Linked DNA regions of Homo sapiens: region 1 is linked to region 2. A link means that fine-mapping ties the variant in region 2 to the expression of a gene that starts in the linked region. Tissue or cell type: whole blood. Region 2 holds a variant in brackets; the other region holds the start of a gene. All regions are shown on one strand. Distances are from middle to middle.

The links. PIP is the estimated chance that this variant, and not a neighbour inherited with it, causes the effect.
Region 1: MAK starts here. The variant in region 2 is fine-mapped to the expression of MAK in whole blood (TOPMed, PIP above 0.99).

What each region holds. Positions count from the first base shown.
Region 1 is chr6:10,835,329-10,843,328 of GRCh38, forward strand. MAK (male germ cell associated kinase) reads right to left here and starts at 3,211. Exons shown (of 15, transcript NM_001242957.3): 1 at 3,175-3,211. RefSeq lists a silencer at 3,274-3,403 and enhancers at 3,624-3,683, 3,734-3,893.
Region 2 is chr6:10,770,376-10,778,639 of GRCh38, forward strand. MAK (male germ cell associated kinase) reads right to left here. Exons shown (of 15, transcript NM_001242957.3): 12 at 4,953-5,084; 13 at 2,659-2,733. Among named protein-coding and RNA genes, the nearest start is that of TMEM14B, 27 kb to the left of the region's middle. The variant T/C (reference allele first, on the strand shown) is at 4,328.

The sequences.
Region 1 (8,000 bases), 65 kb after region 2:
TGCTCACTGCAACCTCCGCCTCCCAGGTTCAAGGGACTCTCCTGCCTCAGCCTCCTGAGTAGCTGGGATTACAGGCGCGTGCCACCATGCCCGGCTAATTTCTGTATTTTTAGTAGAGACAGGGTTTTACCACGTTGGCCAGGCTGGTCTTGAACTCCTGACCTCATGTGATCCACCTGCCTCGGCCTCCCAAAGTGCTGGGGTTTATAGGCGTGAGCCACTGCGCCCAGCCATGAAAATTATTTAATTCAGAAACATAATGGTATGATAGCATCATCTTTTCTTTTAACCAAATTATTTTCATGTTAACACCTAACCAAGGACAAGCATTTGAGGGTCTAAAAGGTAGAAAAGTAATGCAGACAATTCTGAAAAAGGACATATGACTTGAGAAGGGAATGGAAGAGGGAGCTGCCTCTGGTTGCATGGTAATGATGGTAGCGAGTGTTATTCAGGAAGTGGAAACACAAAGAGTGACAAAAAAATCACCTTCATTGGCCCAACAATCTAAAAATTAAGAATTAATTACACCTCTCTCTTCCACTATTAAGGCCATCAGCCACCCCCATCACCACCGCCCTGGGGTGGGAGGGTGACCTGAAGCTGCACCAGCACTATCAGCACAATAGAGCATTCAGTCACTGATGACTTTCGACCCAAGCCTGCGTGCACAGTCTCTTTGCGAGTGGCTATTTTGGCAACTTCATTCCAAGCCTAACCAATCAACTTCTGAATAAACACCGGCAACACCAATTGTCTTTCAACGGATGATGGCTATAGGATAGGGTGTACTTATATTGAGGGAAGAATAAGCAAGGAACACGACCATTTCCCAGCTCCTTTCTGTTTGAGGGGTGGAGTGTTGAGGATTACGGACGTGACATAGATTTTTAAAAGGTCAGATTAGTGGTTCTGTGAGGATCTGTCCCATTTAAGCCCTACCTAACCTTTAAGTAAAACAACTTTACATACTGCGCTCCCTAAGAAAAAACTTTGGAAAGGCTTCTTTTGAACTACATTAATTACAAAATCAACAGCTGCCCAGGGTGAGACGCTGATCATTGCAACTGTTCCTTCTATCCCCTGAACATACAATTGTCTAATGTAGAGACATAGACATCAAGGTAAAGCTTTTAAAAAATCATTATTCCATGTCCCTGCTCCCTGATAGCACATAAGCAACTACTTTTATCAATGTGGCATAGCAACTACTGATTACTAATCAAAAAGCAGTCTATGTTCCTTAAACACAGGCTTCCCATGGTTCTCCAGTTCACGCACAATAATATTTCTCTACAAGTTACATATATTCTTCTCTGTTGACCTATGGAAAACTAATCTACAAAATAGGAATATATTAACACAGTTTCTTATGTACATGAATATATATAGATATGATACATATGCAACAAAAAACCCAAGTAAATATAACTATCATCCTCAATTTAACAGAATTGTTAAAAACTTGGAATTTTCTACAATCAAGCTATAACATTTATTGACCTTCCTATGGGTTAAAGAAAAAGATGCTTATTTAGAGGCTTAATTATAGACCTACACAAAAATAAATACCCTTATAATTTATCTCTCATTCTAGTTTTCAACTTTTTAATCTAAGTTCATAATTACCGTTTCTCTAAGTGCACAATTGTTGTAAATATAGCCTTTACTCTCAACAGCTTTTGCCAGCTAATAAGAGATTCAGATAGGATTAAAGAAGATTAGCAAAGAGGGCAAATGAAGGGTAAAACAAGCGTCTGCCAAAAACTGAAGAGATAAGGCTTGGATGTCTTCAACGTGGCTTTCTAGAACATATTATGTCACTCCGAGGCTGGCTTAACGCTTCTAATACACAACAAAAGAGTAATTAACGTTTTAAAAGTCACCAAACTCTTTAAAAAGCAACGCAGGAAAAAAAGATCCCAAACTAACCAAGTCGAAGTTTTACAGAAATTAAATGAGCTATTACAATGGGAAAACAAAGACTGTATCTTAAAATATAAAAGCACAGTTCTCTGTGCTCATATTCACAAATTATTTCAAAGCTTATACACAAAAAAAGTCCACCCCGACGAAGAGATTAAACGTCCTGCCCGGTGCCTGCAGTGGAAGCAGGCGGTGGCGCGGTTGGGGGAACTTTCTCCCTCCCGGTCAAGCCTCGGGAATTGAAGGGCCGGGGAGGCGGGGCCCGATCGAAAAGCTGGAAAGTCACTTTTGTTTTCACCATTATTTCACTTAATGGGTTGTGTTTCTGAATAAATAAAGTCAGATAACTTTGGCTTCCCTCTTTGAGAATTCCGTTATCATTAGAACAAATGTCTGTTTCTTTTAAACGATTATCTAACCACATTTGCATACAGCTCTTTCCTTGTAGGATTGAGATTACTAACCACTAAAAACCAGTTTTATTGCTCTCGACACCGCACTCTCGACCTGTCCCTAAATTAAAACGGATTACTTGCAGAAAAGGGACAGTTTTCGTCACACACTTTCTGATCCGACTCTGCAAACCAGGGCTCTTAAAAGGCTCCAGGGACCGCGTGGTGGAAGGAGGGGGCGTCCCCGGGCGCCGGGAGTCCGGCGCCGTTGGGGGGGACGGGGGTGTGCGGAATTCCACTTTCACCTGAGCGTCCTTTGGGATGCACCAGCGAGGGCTGGAGTCGGACCTAATTCCTGTTTTTCTCCCTCCTTTTAGATTTTGCAACAGTTCTGAACTCAGTTCCGCTGCCTCCCTGAGACCCAATCCTGCCTCTCTGTCCTAAAAACAGTTTCCACCGCCAGCCCAAGCAGCAGGGGAGCAGAGGTGGGAGATCCCGGAGGAGAGTTTAGGGGCGGGGGTCTCAGGCTAAGGGACGCCCGGCCGTCATCCTCCCACGCCAGGCCGGCCCCCGCGGTCCAGGAGGCGGGAAAGTGGTCAAGAGGTCTGGGAGACACCGACCGCCTTCCCTCGGGCTGACCACTCCCGCCCGCTCCGCCCCTCCGGGGACCCTCCTCCCTCCAGTCCTTCCCCTACCGGCGTCAGGGACCGGTCTCCGGGCGGAGATTGGCCCTGGTAGCACAGGGCGCCGAGGGGACATGCCCGGCCAGCCTCGCAGGTCGGGCTCCGGCTGGGTCGGACAGAGGGTGGTGGCCCTGCAGCCCGCTGGGGATTACCTGTCCGCGCCTGCTGCTTACCTCGTTCGCTCCCTTGTGAAGCTCCGGCGTCTTGTGTGTTTCATCTCCTAGGAAACGGCGGGGGCAGCAGGCGGGCCTACGGCCGGCCCAGAGAGGGCGTGGCCTCGCGGGAAATCCCCGCCAATTCCCGCAGGCCCCGCCTTCCCCGGGGCGGGGCTTCATGGAGCCGGGGGACTGTCGGCTGAGCTGCAGCAAGTGTGCCATTTAGACTTGGGGTTTAGGGGAGTTGATTACCTTTTCAGTCAGGTCTTTGTCAGAAGTTGGTTTGTTTGCCCTTTATTTTGTTTTGGTTTTGTTCCGATTCATTCTACAAAGTCTTGATTAATTAAAATATGGTTCCCAGACCGGGCAGAGCAAGAGAAGGAAGTCTGTTTGCCTCATACTTGCACTTGTTTACTTGTGCCTGGGGAAAAACTGTTCTTGTATGCAGTTCCTTAAATTGGTCAATTCCTTGGGTATGTATTACCTCTTGAGCTGCCCTTCTAAGTTTGTTTCCATTTATTCATTCAGAGAACCTGCCTAGTATCAGCCACAGAGTTAGATAGTGGTAATTCCAAGAAAAATGACTGAATGTGTGAATAAATGGGTAAATTGTAACTAGTCTAGAATTTAGAGAGGAAGGCACACTTGTGTTACTGCAAATAGTTCAGATTGGCTGGCAAAAAGGGTCTACGAAACAGAAACATAAGTGATGAAGCAGTGGTGCGGCAAGTTAGTAATTATTAGGTGTCAGGATGTGGGCTTGGGACCAAGAATAGCGCCAAGGTAGACACGACAGACATGCCTGTGGCCCTCACAGCTTAAAGTGAAGTAGGCTTTCACGCGTATGTTTATGGCAGCACAATTCACAATTGCAAAGATGTGGAACCAATCTAAGTGCCCATTGACTAATGAGTGGATAAAGAAAATGTGGTATATATACACCATAGGCTGCTACTCAGTCACAAAAAAAGAATGAAATAATGTCTTTTGCAACAACTTGGAAGAGTGGGAGGTCCTTATTCTACGCAAAGTAATACAGGCGTGGAAAACCAAAAACTGTATGTTCTCACTTATAAGCAAAAGCCAAGCTATGAGTATGCAAAGGCATACACAGTGAAATAATGGACTTTGGAGACTCAGAAAGGGGAGGATGGGAGAGAGCCTAGGGATAAAAAAAACTATGCACTAGGTACCATATACACTACTCAGATGATGGGTGCACTAAAATCTCAGAATTCACCACTATATAATTCATCTATGTAACAAAAAACCACTTGTACCCCAAGAGCTATTGAAATAAACATTTAAAAACAGACGGGGCTCAGTGGCTCATGCCTGTAATCCCAGCACTTTGGGAGGCCCAGGTGAGTGGCTCACCTGAGGTCAGGAGTTCAAGACCAGCCTGGCCAACATGGTGAAACCCCATCTCTACTAAAAATACAAAAAATATCTGGGTGTGGTGGCACATGCCTGTAATCCCAGCTACTCGGGAGGCTGAGGCAGGAGAATCACTTGAACCCAGGAGGCAGAGGTTGCAGTGAGCGGAGAACGTGCCACTGCACTCCAGCCTGGGTGACTGAGCAAGACTCTGTCTCAAAATAATAATAATAATAAATGGCCAGGCGCGGTGGCTCATGCCTGTAATCCCAGCACTTTGGGAGGCCGAGGTGGGCGGATCACCTGAGGTCGGGAGTTTGAGACCAGTCTGACCAACCTGGAGAAACCCCATCTCTACTAAAATGCTAAAACTACAAAAAATTAGCCAGGCGTGGTGGCGCATGCCTGTAATCCCAGCTACTTGGGAGGCTGAGGTAGGAGAATAGCTTGAACCCAGGAGGCGGAGGTTGCAGTGAGCTGAGATCACACCATTGCACTCCAGCCTGGGCAGCAAAAGCAAAACTCCGTCTCAATAATAATAATAATAAATAAAAGATTCATTGCTCTCCAATAAATAAGTGAAGTAGGCAGGCAAAGTAAAAAGCATAAGTTAGATAGGTCATAGCAGCTTTATATACCCAGTTATGAAGCCTAAGCTTTAACATGTGTCAATGAGGAAGACCAGTGAAGAATCTCCCACAGAAGAGTGACATGTTCACATTTGCATTTCAGAAAGATCCCAAGAGGAGCAGTGGGTAGGGTGGATTTGAGCTGCAAGTCTGGAGGCAAGAGAAAGATTGGGAGTCTTTCTCCCAACTGACTGGGAAGAAATGATAAGGATCCAACTCTAGCAGTGATGATGGAAATAGGACAGAGAAAGACAGAATTCAAGGGATGTTTAGGAGTTAAAATCGGCAGGACCATCAGGCTTAGATGACTGGTGGATAGTGGTATCCATGACCAAGTTGGAAAATAATAGAGGAGGAGCTGATTTAGGGATGGAGGATGTGAGAGATAACAAGCCCAGTTTTGAAATTTTTGAATTGAGAAAAATCCTTATGCAGATTACAAGAAGGGAGTTTGTAATATAGATTTGCAACTTAGGGTTCTTTTAGAGCTAGAAATACAGATATGTTGGGATACTGTGGATGAAATCATGGATATAGATGAAATAAACAGTAAGAAGAAAGAAGGGATGGGATTCTGGAAAACTCCATCCTCTAAAGAGTGGAGAAAGAAAGAGTAGGGGTGAGGAAGAGACAGACTGAAAAAAGAAAAGTCAGGGAAGTAGTAGGAGATCCCTCAGAAAAATGATATTTCAGAATGAGGAAAGGTAGGTTTCCCAAAAGAAAGAGAAAGAGAAAGGAAGGAAGGAAAGAGAGAGAAAACAAAAAGAGGACAAACAGCATTTATTCCTTCTGAAGAACTCTTCTGTTTTAAAACAAGTAGAGCATGCACAAAACATATTTTTTGTCACGTTTCACAATAGAAGAATAAAAATTCTCCAAGCACTCCTAACCCCTTCTAAAAAGTACCTAATATCTGAGCAGAGCAGTGAACGTACCTGAAAGGCAAAGGTGGCCCAAAGGCAAATCCCATTTCAGCATTTCAACCAGCTGACGAAGCCTTGGACCCGTGGCAATAGGGCTGAGCTGGACCAGGGACTAGAAAATCAACCAGGGGAGCTTAGAAGGGGTCAAAGTGGTCCCAGGTCAGGAGCATCATCTGGATCCCAAAGGAAACAAACACAATCATCTCTGAAGAAGGCATCCTCAACTTAGGCCTCTAGGTTTTTCAAAAAATATGAGCTCATGACCACAGAGGAATGAACACCGTCAAATGAGAATCTAGAAAAAGCAACAATTATTCAGACTTTCCAGGATTTCTGAAATTGGAAAAATCAGCTTGAATACAAAATAGCTATGTATGAAATATATACAGAAATAGAAGAAGGAATAGCAAAAATGAACAGAAATCAATCAGGAATATTAGAAAAAGAATTAAATAAACTGTTAGAAAGAAACGTAACTATTGAAACTTTAAAAATGAGTTACATGTTATATTAGAACAAAAGAAAGAATTAGGGAATTGGCACAAAATCTGCAGAAAGTACCTAGAATATAGCATATAAAAGATAAGAAGATGAGAAATACTAATGAGAAATTAAGAGATACGATGGATAAAATAAAGTCTAACATGGGTCTAAATAAATTCTAAGAAGTAGATTTGTTGTTGATAATGCATTGCTACAGTAGTTCTTTTTTTTGTTTGAGATGGGGTTTCACTCTGTCGCCCAGGCTGGAGTGCAGTGGTGTGATCTCGGCTCTCTGCAACCTCCACCTCCCGAGTTCAAGCAATTCTCCTGCCTCAGCCTCCCGAGTAGCTGGGACTACAGGCACACACCACCGTGCCCATCTAATTTTTGTATTTTTAGTAGAGATGGGGTTTCACCATATTGGTCAGGTTGATCTTGAACTCCTGACCTCAGCTGATCCACCCACCTCGGCCTCCCAAAGTGCTGGGATTACAGGCATGAGCCACCATGCCTGGCCAGCTGCAGTTCTAGTAAAATTTATCTATATGGTAGAATCAAGCAAATATTGATACTGTTGAAAATCAGAGTTCTTATTTGGGAGAAGAGAGATAAAGATGTAGAATGGAGAAAGAAGAGGAAGAATCTGTGGTGTCAGTTTTGACTTGGAGGTAGCAAGATTAACACATGACTTACTAAAAAGTGCTTCCTAGCTCTGTTCACTGAAAGGATCTAGAAACAATGACACTACAGTAACAGTGAACAGATTAACACCCAAGTCCCGGTTTTGTAATACTATTATTTACTTAAAGGAAACAGAACTCCTTGGAGAAGTGGCTGATTCCATGACTGGGGCAAGGAAAGTCCAAGGTAGTCTTAAAATGTATCATGCACACCCAGCAAAGGTTAAAGATCCTATTTCACCAAGCCACTGAGCACTACAAGGACTTTATAATTCTTTAATTCAGATTACCCATTCAATTTATGTGCTAATGTCATCTAATATTTTAGTTTATATTTATAACCCTATAGATTGGTCTGTTATTTTACATTCAGAGTATTTGTACATTGATACATGTGATGATGTCTTTGCTCATCTTATCTTTCTGTACCTCAGACCTTCCTCCTGGGATTACCTTCCTTCATCCTAAAGTATAGCCTTTAGAAGTTCCTTTACAGTAGGTCTGTTCGTGGTAAAATGTTGCACTTGCTTTTTGTTTTTGTTTTAATTTATTTTTTTTGACGGGGTCTTGCTGTGTCACCCAGGCTGGAGTGCAATGGTACGATCTCGGGTCACTGCAAGCTCGGTCTCCTGGGTTCACGCCATTCTCCTGCCTCAGCCTCCCGAGTAGCTGGGACTACAGGTGCCCGCCACCACGCCCAGCTAAATTTTTGTATTTTTAGTAGAGACGGGGTTTCACTTTGTTAGCCAGGA
Region 2 (8,264 bases):
TTCTTATTCCATCCATACAACAGCCCGCTTAGATCATATTAGTATCCATATCGTGTGGCTCTCCAATGTTGAGTAACTTGCCTAACTTCTCACAGTTAGTAAGAGACTGAGCTGGGGTCTGAACTCAAGGCCCAGGGGTGTTCAGTTCACCCTGAACACGCCAGGCTTTCTCACGACCCCACTTCTTCACATGGGGGTGTATTTCCCACTGCGAAGCCCCTATCTCTGAAGTGCTCTCTGTGTCTGTCTTCATTCTGTAAAATGGTTGTAAGTGGACCTATTCTCGTAGGGTTGTTGTAGGGATTGATGAGACTCTTCAGAGCACGTGGCATAGAATCTGTACGCATTAAACGTCAGCTAGCATAATTGCCATCATTATCAACACCATCATCATCATCACTATTGGTGAATGCTCAATCTGGCGTTAGCATAGGGATGCATTGATGAGGAAAAATCTAAAGTCTGGAGACCAGTGAGGAAGTCACTGCTAAGAGCTGAAATGAGGGAGGATGAGGGTCTGAACCACAGCAGTGGCAGAGGGTGAAGAAGAAGGGAACTAAGCAGGTTCACGGGGTGGAGGTGGTAGGGAAAGAGGGAAATATAAACTCCTAAGTTTGCAGCTCAGGTGACTGGGGGGTGCGTTGTCCATGAATAGCAACATAGGAGGAGAATCAGGATTGGGGGAAAGACATGGTACCCAGAGGACATTCATGTTGTGGCAGGCAGAGGGCAAGTGGGCAGGCGTGGAGATTGGTGATGATCAGGGTGTGGTGGTTACAGAGTTGTGGGCTGAAGGAGCCAGCTCAGAGGCACTGCGAATGTGCAGAGACCTGGAGTAGACCCCCAAGGAACACCAGCATTAAGGGACAGGAGAGAAAAGGACCTCATGGAGGAAGAGAACAGGTAGAGAGGTGGATGGTAGGAGGAACAGGGTATGGAAATCCAAGAGAATACACACTGAGTGTGGAAAAAAGGAATGGGAGATGAGGCAGAGAGCTCGGATAGGACCAGCACCGCCCCTGGGATCTGGCCACTAGGATGTCAAGATCTAGCAGGAGCTGCTGCACTGGCAGGAAGCAGACTGAAGACAAACGACAACCAGAAGCAATAGGAGGAGCTAGCTCTGCAGGAAGGGAGACAGGTTTATCTCTAGAAGGCGAAATGGGGCTCTGATCACCCTCGTGGTTTCAAAGCACTGTTCAGTAAACAGTGTTTTCTCTATAGCGTTATCTGTTTACACGTCTCGACACTGGGCTCTGTGTCCGTTGTCTCTCACGGCATATCAGGCTTCAACAGGTGTCTGCTCTTGAAGCAACAAATGTCAAAGCGCAATATTATGTTATCAGCCCCTAAAGGGTTACATACAGTGAGCACATGCTCTCAGTCTATACATGTTTAACCCTACTGAATTTTGTGTAAGTTCAGCTGCCTACTTTAACCTTTTTCCCATCTCAGAAACTCATTCTGAAACACTAATCAGTTCTTTACTTCAGAAAAATTTTCGGAAGGAAATTCAAAGCAGTGATTGCATTCACTAGCAGCTTCAGTCATGTCTCTTGCTCTCATCCTCATCAGCAGAGCAAACACTTATTAAATGCTTAGCATGTGTTAAAATTCCAGGTAGGGTTATGTAAGAATACCTAAGGAAATTTCGTCCGTTTTATGGACGGGAAAGCTGGCTTAAACAACTTGTCCCAAACCACAAAAGCTGGTGAGTGACAAAATGGGATATATCAGACTCTAGGATTCATGCATTATGATGCTTCTTATTGGAGAAAGAAGTTGTTAGGGAAAAAACATGAACAGAAAATTAAGTCTTCTTAAATTATTTTGGCTTATTATTTGAAGTACCTTGTATGCTGTGAATTTTCAGATTGCAGCCAGTTGTTAGCACTGTTGAAACCAGTAACACTGAACCCCTAGGAAATCCACCATCTCTATTAACCCAGTTAACCTTTTTTTTTTTTTAATTTTTATTTATTTATTTGAGATGGAGTCTTGCTCTGTTGCCAGGCTGGAGTGCAGTGGCGCAATCTTGGTTCACTGCAACCTCCGCCTCCCGGGTTCAAGCGATTCTCCTGCCTCAGCCTCCTGAGTAGCTGGGATTACAGGTGCATGCCACCACACACAGCTAATTTTTGTATTTTTAGTAGAGACACGGGTTTCATCATGTTGGCCAGGATGGTCTCTATCTCTTGATCTCATGATCTGCCCGGCTCGGCCTCCTGAAGTGCTGGGATTTCAGGTGTGAGCCACCGCGCCCAGCCTAACCTTTTTAAAAAAGTGGTTGTTCATGCTTAAGAAATGAGTTTCAGAACTTTGAAAAAAAAATTCCAGGAATATAGATCGCAAAATTAGAAAATACTCTTTTGATTCTTTTCATTAGAATTATTTGCTTGATTTCCTCTATAAATTTCCGTAATTAATTTAAGAAGACCAGCACAGAGCTTTTTGAGAGCATATTCATCTTAAAATCTCAGTTACTGAAGGAAGATATTCTTGATGAGACAGAATGCTTTTCTTTATCTTAGTCCTGATCTGACTTCTCAAAGCGGATCATCTCGGCCTTTTATGTCAGGATTAGGGGCAAATGTTGAGAAGAAAATCAGACAAGAGATTCAAAGAACAAACTGCATTCATCTGACGCCCAGAAATTACCTTGTGGGTCCTCTAATTTTTCAGGAAAAGTTTCATTGCATGATAGTTTTTCGATTGGTTTAATTATGCTTTCTTCTAAAGAGAAGACAGATGGAAAGAAAGAATAATAGTAAGGAGAATGTTATAGGAAAAGCAGAGAAAAAATGGATTAGATGATTAATGAAAAGATCCAGAAAGAGCCCTTAAAAATGCAAAAATGTCCCCATTGTTGTCACAGCATTTATTTGATGCCAACTGTATATTCCCTTGAGACTCAAAGTTGTTCTACTGTCATTTAATTGAATTTGTGTAACTGGTTGGTTCAGTGAATATTAATTTTAATTATCTGAAGAAAAAATAAGTAAATTACAGTGCTGCAGTGTATGACACCGCAGCGACATTAAATGGATAAACTGAGTTTTTAAAGAATCTGGAAAACTTGTAAAAAGCCCAAATATATTGATGTCACATCAGAATATCTCACTAAACTACTCACTTATAATGGTAATTGTCAAAGTTTTTTGATCCAATATCACCTACATTAAAAAACAAACTGTACCTCTTCACACACTTTTAAGTTGATATTTAAAATTTTTAATCATAAGTTTAACAGTTGCAAAGGATGTTATTTCTGACATATTGTAACTATAGGCATTTAAAAAATAAAACTATTAGTGATTTTTTTTTTTTTTTTTTTGAGACAGAATCTCGCTCTGTCGCCCAGGCTGGAGTGCAGTGGTGTGATCTCGGCTCACTGCAACCTCCACTTCCTGGGTTCAAGCGATTCTCCTGTCTCAGTCTCCTGAGCAGCTGGATTTATAGGCGCATGCCACCATGCCTGGATTTTTTTTTGTGTGTGTGTATTTTTAGTAGAGACAGGGTTTCACCATGTTGGTCAGGCGGGTCTCGAACTCCGGACCTTGTGATTCGCCCACCTCGGCCTCCCAAAGTGCTGGGATTACAGGAGTGGGCCACTGCACCTGGCCAAAACTATTAGTGATTTTATGTCCTCCAATATTGACATAAAAATACATGAACAAGTTCCTTTTTGATGCTTGGACATTTCACATTAATTCTTTTTTCCCTTAAAATTATATCTTTATTTATACCTCAGCTTCCAAATTTTATCCAAATGTAATCTTAGGCTTAAAAGTCTAAAATTGGTCACTCTAAAATATGTGTAAATTAAAACTTTTTTTAATTTCTTGTAACCATAAGGATATTAACATACTGTACAAAGTTATAATTACAATGATTCATTGTATATAATTAATCAAAAAAGTTGAGTATTATATATTTTGATTACTAAACACGAAAATTAAGTTTTTTGCAAACACATCTCTTAATGAGAAAGGTGGGGTTATTTTCAAGTAGTTCATGTATCAACAAATGAATATTTATTGCTGGAATCACAGCATCAGGGCTATTTTCTCTCTCTTTTCTTTTTTCTTCCTTTTTGGAGACAGAAGCATTAAGAAATCTTGCTAATACAAATAGATAGTTGGGAACAAAAGCGGTTTTGTGATAGCTTTGCCACTCTATTCTTCAAACGCTCTTCAAAATTACAGACCAAAATTCATATACTGATCTCATAAAAAAAAATTAAAAAAACTTTTTAAATTACCTGTCAGCTAACAATTCAAGTAGGTCCTCCTTCAATTTTCTAAATGCTGAGAACTGTTAAGACTCC[T/C]TGACTTTAAAAAGGACCTGTTCCTCAGTCATCAAATCAAAGTTACTTACTTTCTCAACAGTGACATCAACATACCAGAATTTCCATTTCATTGGCACCCCAGATATTTTTACATTTTGGGGAAAAAGAAAACACACCATGGTAGCCAGTGAGAAGTCTTCTTTTCAGAATAGAAACTCCTTGCTAGGGCAGACCCATTTCAGGAAAGATTCAGATGGAGGTCGAGAATTCCCTTAAAACTAGCTGTACTCAAGAATTAGTGGGAAAACCTTTTTTTTATTATTGTACTTTTTAATATAGAGGCACAGTTCCACCATGTTGGCCAGGTTGATCTCGAACTCCTAGGCTCAAGGGACCTGCCCACCTCCGCCTCCCAAAGTGCTGGGATTACAGGTGTGAACCACCATGCTCATCCAGCTACAAACAGTTTTATTGAAGAGGCAGTGTTACAACTCCATGACTGCTCCAGCAGAGCAGGGCTACCCATAGGCAGAGTGTAGTGGAAAACCTTTGTGTATCTCCCAAGTGCACATGTATCTTGGTTGGAAGAGCACTGCAATATATTTAAAAGTAGACCTCTATAAAGGAAAACCCCGTACATGTACATTTTGTATTCTTGCGTTACCTGCATTGCTCCTTTTGAAAGCAAGTTCTGCCCCAACGGGTCCCAGTGACTTGGGGAATAACTGGTTGCTCCAAGTGTGGGGGTTTATTTCCTTTCCACTGGCTATCAAGGACACCTTCTTGGGATTCACACCTGAGAAGAACAAAACAACCACTTCAAAGGTTAGAGCAGATCATAAACTTAAAGGAAACTTATGTAATACATTCAAACAAAGACTAGAGACACCTTGGACAGGAGAATGGAAATAAATCTAGGTGAAAATGTAGCAGATACTTGCTTTCTGATGAACCCTAACATGATACCAAGCCCTTAGCACAACCACCTGGAATGTTGACAGTGTACTTTATAGGCAGAAGATATTTTCTACAATATAATAATAACACTTGATGTTCTTGCTAAGGGTCTTGTAAAAATTGAGATGGCACAAAAATTTTTCTTCAACAACACGACGTTTTTTTTGTTTTGTTTTGTTTTGTTTTGAGACAGGGTCTCTCTCTGTCGTCCAGGCTGGAGTGCCATGGTGTGATCTTGGCTCACTGCAGCCTCCACCTCCCAGGTTCAAGTGATTCTTGTGTCTCAGCCTCCCGAGTAGCTGGGATTACAGGCACCCACCACCATGCTTGGCTAATTTTTGTATTTTTAGTAGAGAGGGGATTTCACCATGTTGGCCAGGCTGTCTCAAACTCCTGGCCTCAAGTGATCCGTTCACCTTGGCCTCCCAAAGTGCTGAGATTACAGGTGTAAGCCACCACACCCGACCCAACATGACATTTTCATGTCACTTGTTTTGAGCGTATATTCTTGGCCCAACCCTTGGTGTAGCAGGGAAAACAGACACGTGACTAAGAACTCAGGAAAACCTTTGAAGTTCGGAGGTATGAAGCTCCACCTGAAACGCTTATTTGTATATGAGATACAGTAAAATGGAAACAGTTTATCCCCTGTGCGCCAGAAAGAAGTCATTGCAAATGTACTTGGAAAAAGAACAGTTTAAATTACTTATGATTTTCTGAAATCTGTGAAATGTCCATTCAGCCTTGGGCCGTGATACTAGTGGTCAAAGGGAGTTGTTTCAACCTGTTCTTAAGAGACTGAAAACTTCTTGAGCTTGTTTTCTTTTCACTGATAATTAAATTAGAGTGAACTTGAGCAGTCTATGCCTTTTGGTCATTCACGGAGAGTTTTCTTTATCTAGTGTAGAAATCATCACTGAGGACTCCACTGATTTAGGAAGTCAGAACTGTCTCCAGGCAGTTGAGCTTTTGCTTTCCGCGAGCTGGATTCCTTAGAAAGGTTTCATATGTATGAGATATATAATAATATCCCTTATTTTGAAACCAGAAATACTGCACCTCAAAAGTTACCCATTATCAGTTCTCTAAGGAAACACTTCATCAGGCAAGTAATTTCCCTTTCTTTATAGGATATAACTTCCCTAATAAAACACCTACAAATCGAACTATTATAGGCAACTACCAGCTGGGTGCGGTGGCTCATGCCTGTAATCCCAGCACTTTGGGAGGCCGAGGCGGGCGGATCACGAGGTCAGGAGTTTGAGACCAGCTTGGCCAACATAGTGAAACCCCATCTCTACTAAAAACACAAAAATTAGCCAGGCATGAGACAGGAGAATCGCTTGAACCTGGGAGGCAGAGGTTGTGGTGAGCCCGAGATCGCACCACTGCACTCTAGCCTGGGCAACAGAGTGAGACTCCATTTCAAAAGAAAAAAAAAAAAGGCAACTACCTAACCATAAAGATGCACTTGGTGGCAATTACTCATATTAAAACATCTTTAGGCCAGGCACAGTGGCTCATGCCTGTAATCCCAGCACTTTGGGAGGCTGAGGGAGGTGGATCACCTGAGGTCAGGAGTTCGAGACAAGCCTGGCCAACATGGTGAGACCCTGTCTCTACTAAAAGAATACAAAAAAAATTAGCTGGGTGTGGTGGTGCCTGCCTGTAATTCCAGCTACTTGGGAGGCTGAGGCACGAGAATCACTTGAACCCAAGTTGTGGAAGTTGCAATGAGCTGAGACTGTGCCACTGCATCCAGCCTGGTCTACAGAGCAAGACTGTCACAAAAAAAAAAAAAAATGTATTTACCCAAAAAGGAAGTGCAAGGTAGGGGTAAAACATTAAAAATCTGTGTGAACACAGTTGTCATAACAAAGAATGAGTTCTGAATATTTAAATGATGTTGTTAATCCAGTTGGCCTTGGCAATATTCCTAAATAGGCTTTTTTTTTAAGTATTTTAAAGTAAAAGGTAAGTAAATTATTGAAGATAACTAGTTTAATTCAAGGTTTGTTTTGTTTTCTTTTGTTTTGAGACAGACTTTTGCTATTGTTGCCCAGGCTGGAGTGCAATGGCGTGATCTCAGCTCACCAAAACCTCCACCTCCCAGGTTCAAGTGATTCTCTTGCCTCAGCCTCCTGAGTAGCTGGGATTACAGGCATGCGCCATCACGCCCGGCTAATTTTGTATTTTTAGTAGAGACAGGGTTTCTCCATGTTGGTCAGGCTAGTCTCGGACTCCCAACCTCAGGTGATCCGCCTGCCTCAGCCTCCCAAAGTGCTGGGATTACAGGTATGAGCCACCTCGCCTGGCCTCAAGGTCTATTTAAGATAAAGATTCCAATTTTGTTGGAAATAGATATATCCTAGAATTTTGTTATTTATTTGTTTATAAGTTTTCACTGGGTACCTCCTACAAACCAAACACTGTTAGGAAGAAGCATAAATTAATTTGATATTATAATGATAGATGTCATTACATGATGATAATCACTTGCCTCAAAGGACATAAAAAAGTCAGTTAGCAAATATTTACTGAGCACCTACCAGTGCCAGGCAGTGCGTGGCATTGGAGAAAAAGTGCTAAACAAAATAGACCAGTTTCTACTCTTTGGCTCTTAGAATCTAATGAGAAGGGAGACAGTTTTAGTCATAACTAAGTAAATACATAATGAGCAGGGTGCATCATGTTTAGAAGAATCTGGGGTGGAGGGGGCAAATAACAGAAGCAACTCAGCCAGTCTTTCTTTCAAATAAGCAATTTTAAGCTGAAATGTGAATCATGATTAACCCTCATTTATGCCTGAGGTTGCAATTTTTTGAAATTTTGCAATCAGACCTTGGCGATGACCTTCAGCAGTAGGATACAACTCCCACATGCTTAGCGTTCCAATAATGGAACACTAGGCATAAATGTGTTTTAAGGGGTGGGGAGGTGCGATCCTTGAAGAGGCAACAGTTTGGGCAGAGGACCTGAGATGGGAAAGAACTCAGAGATGGCCAGTAAGGCTGCAGCA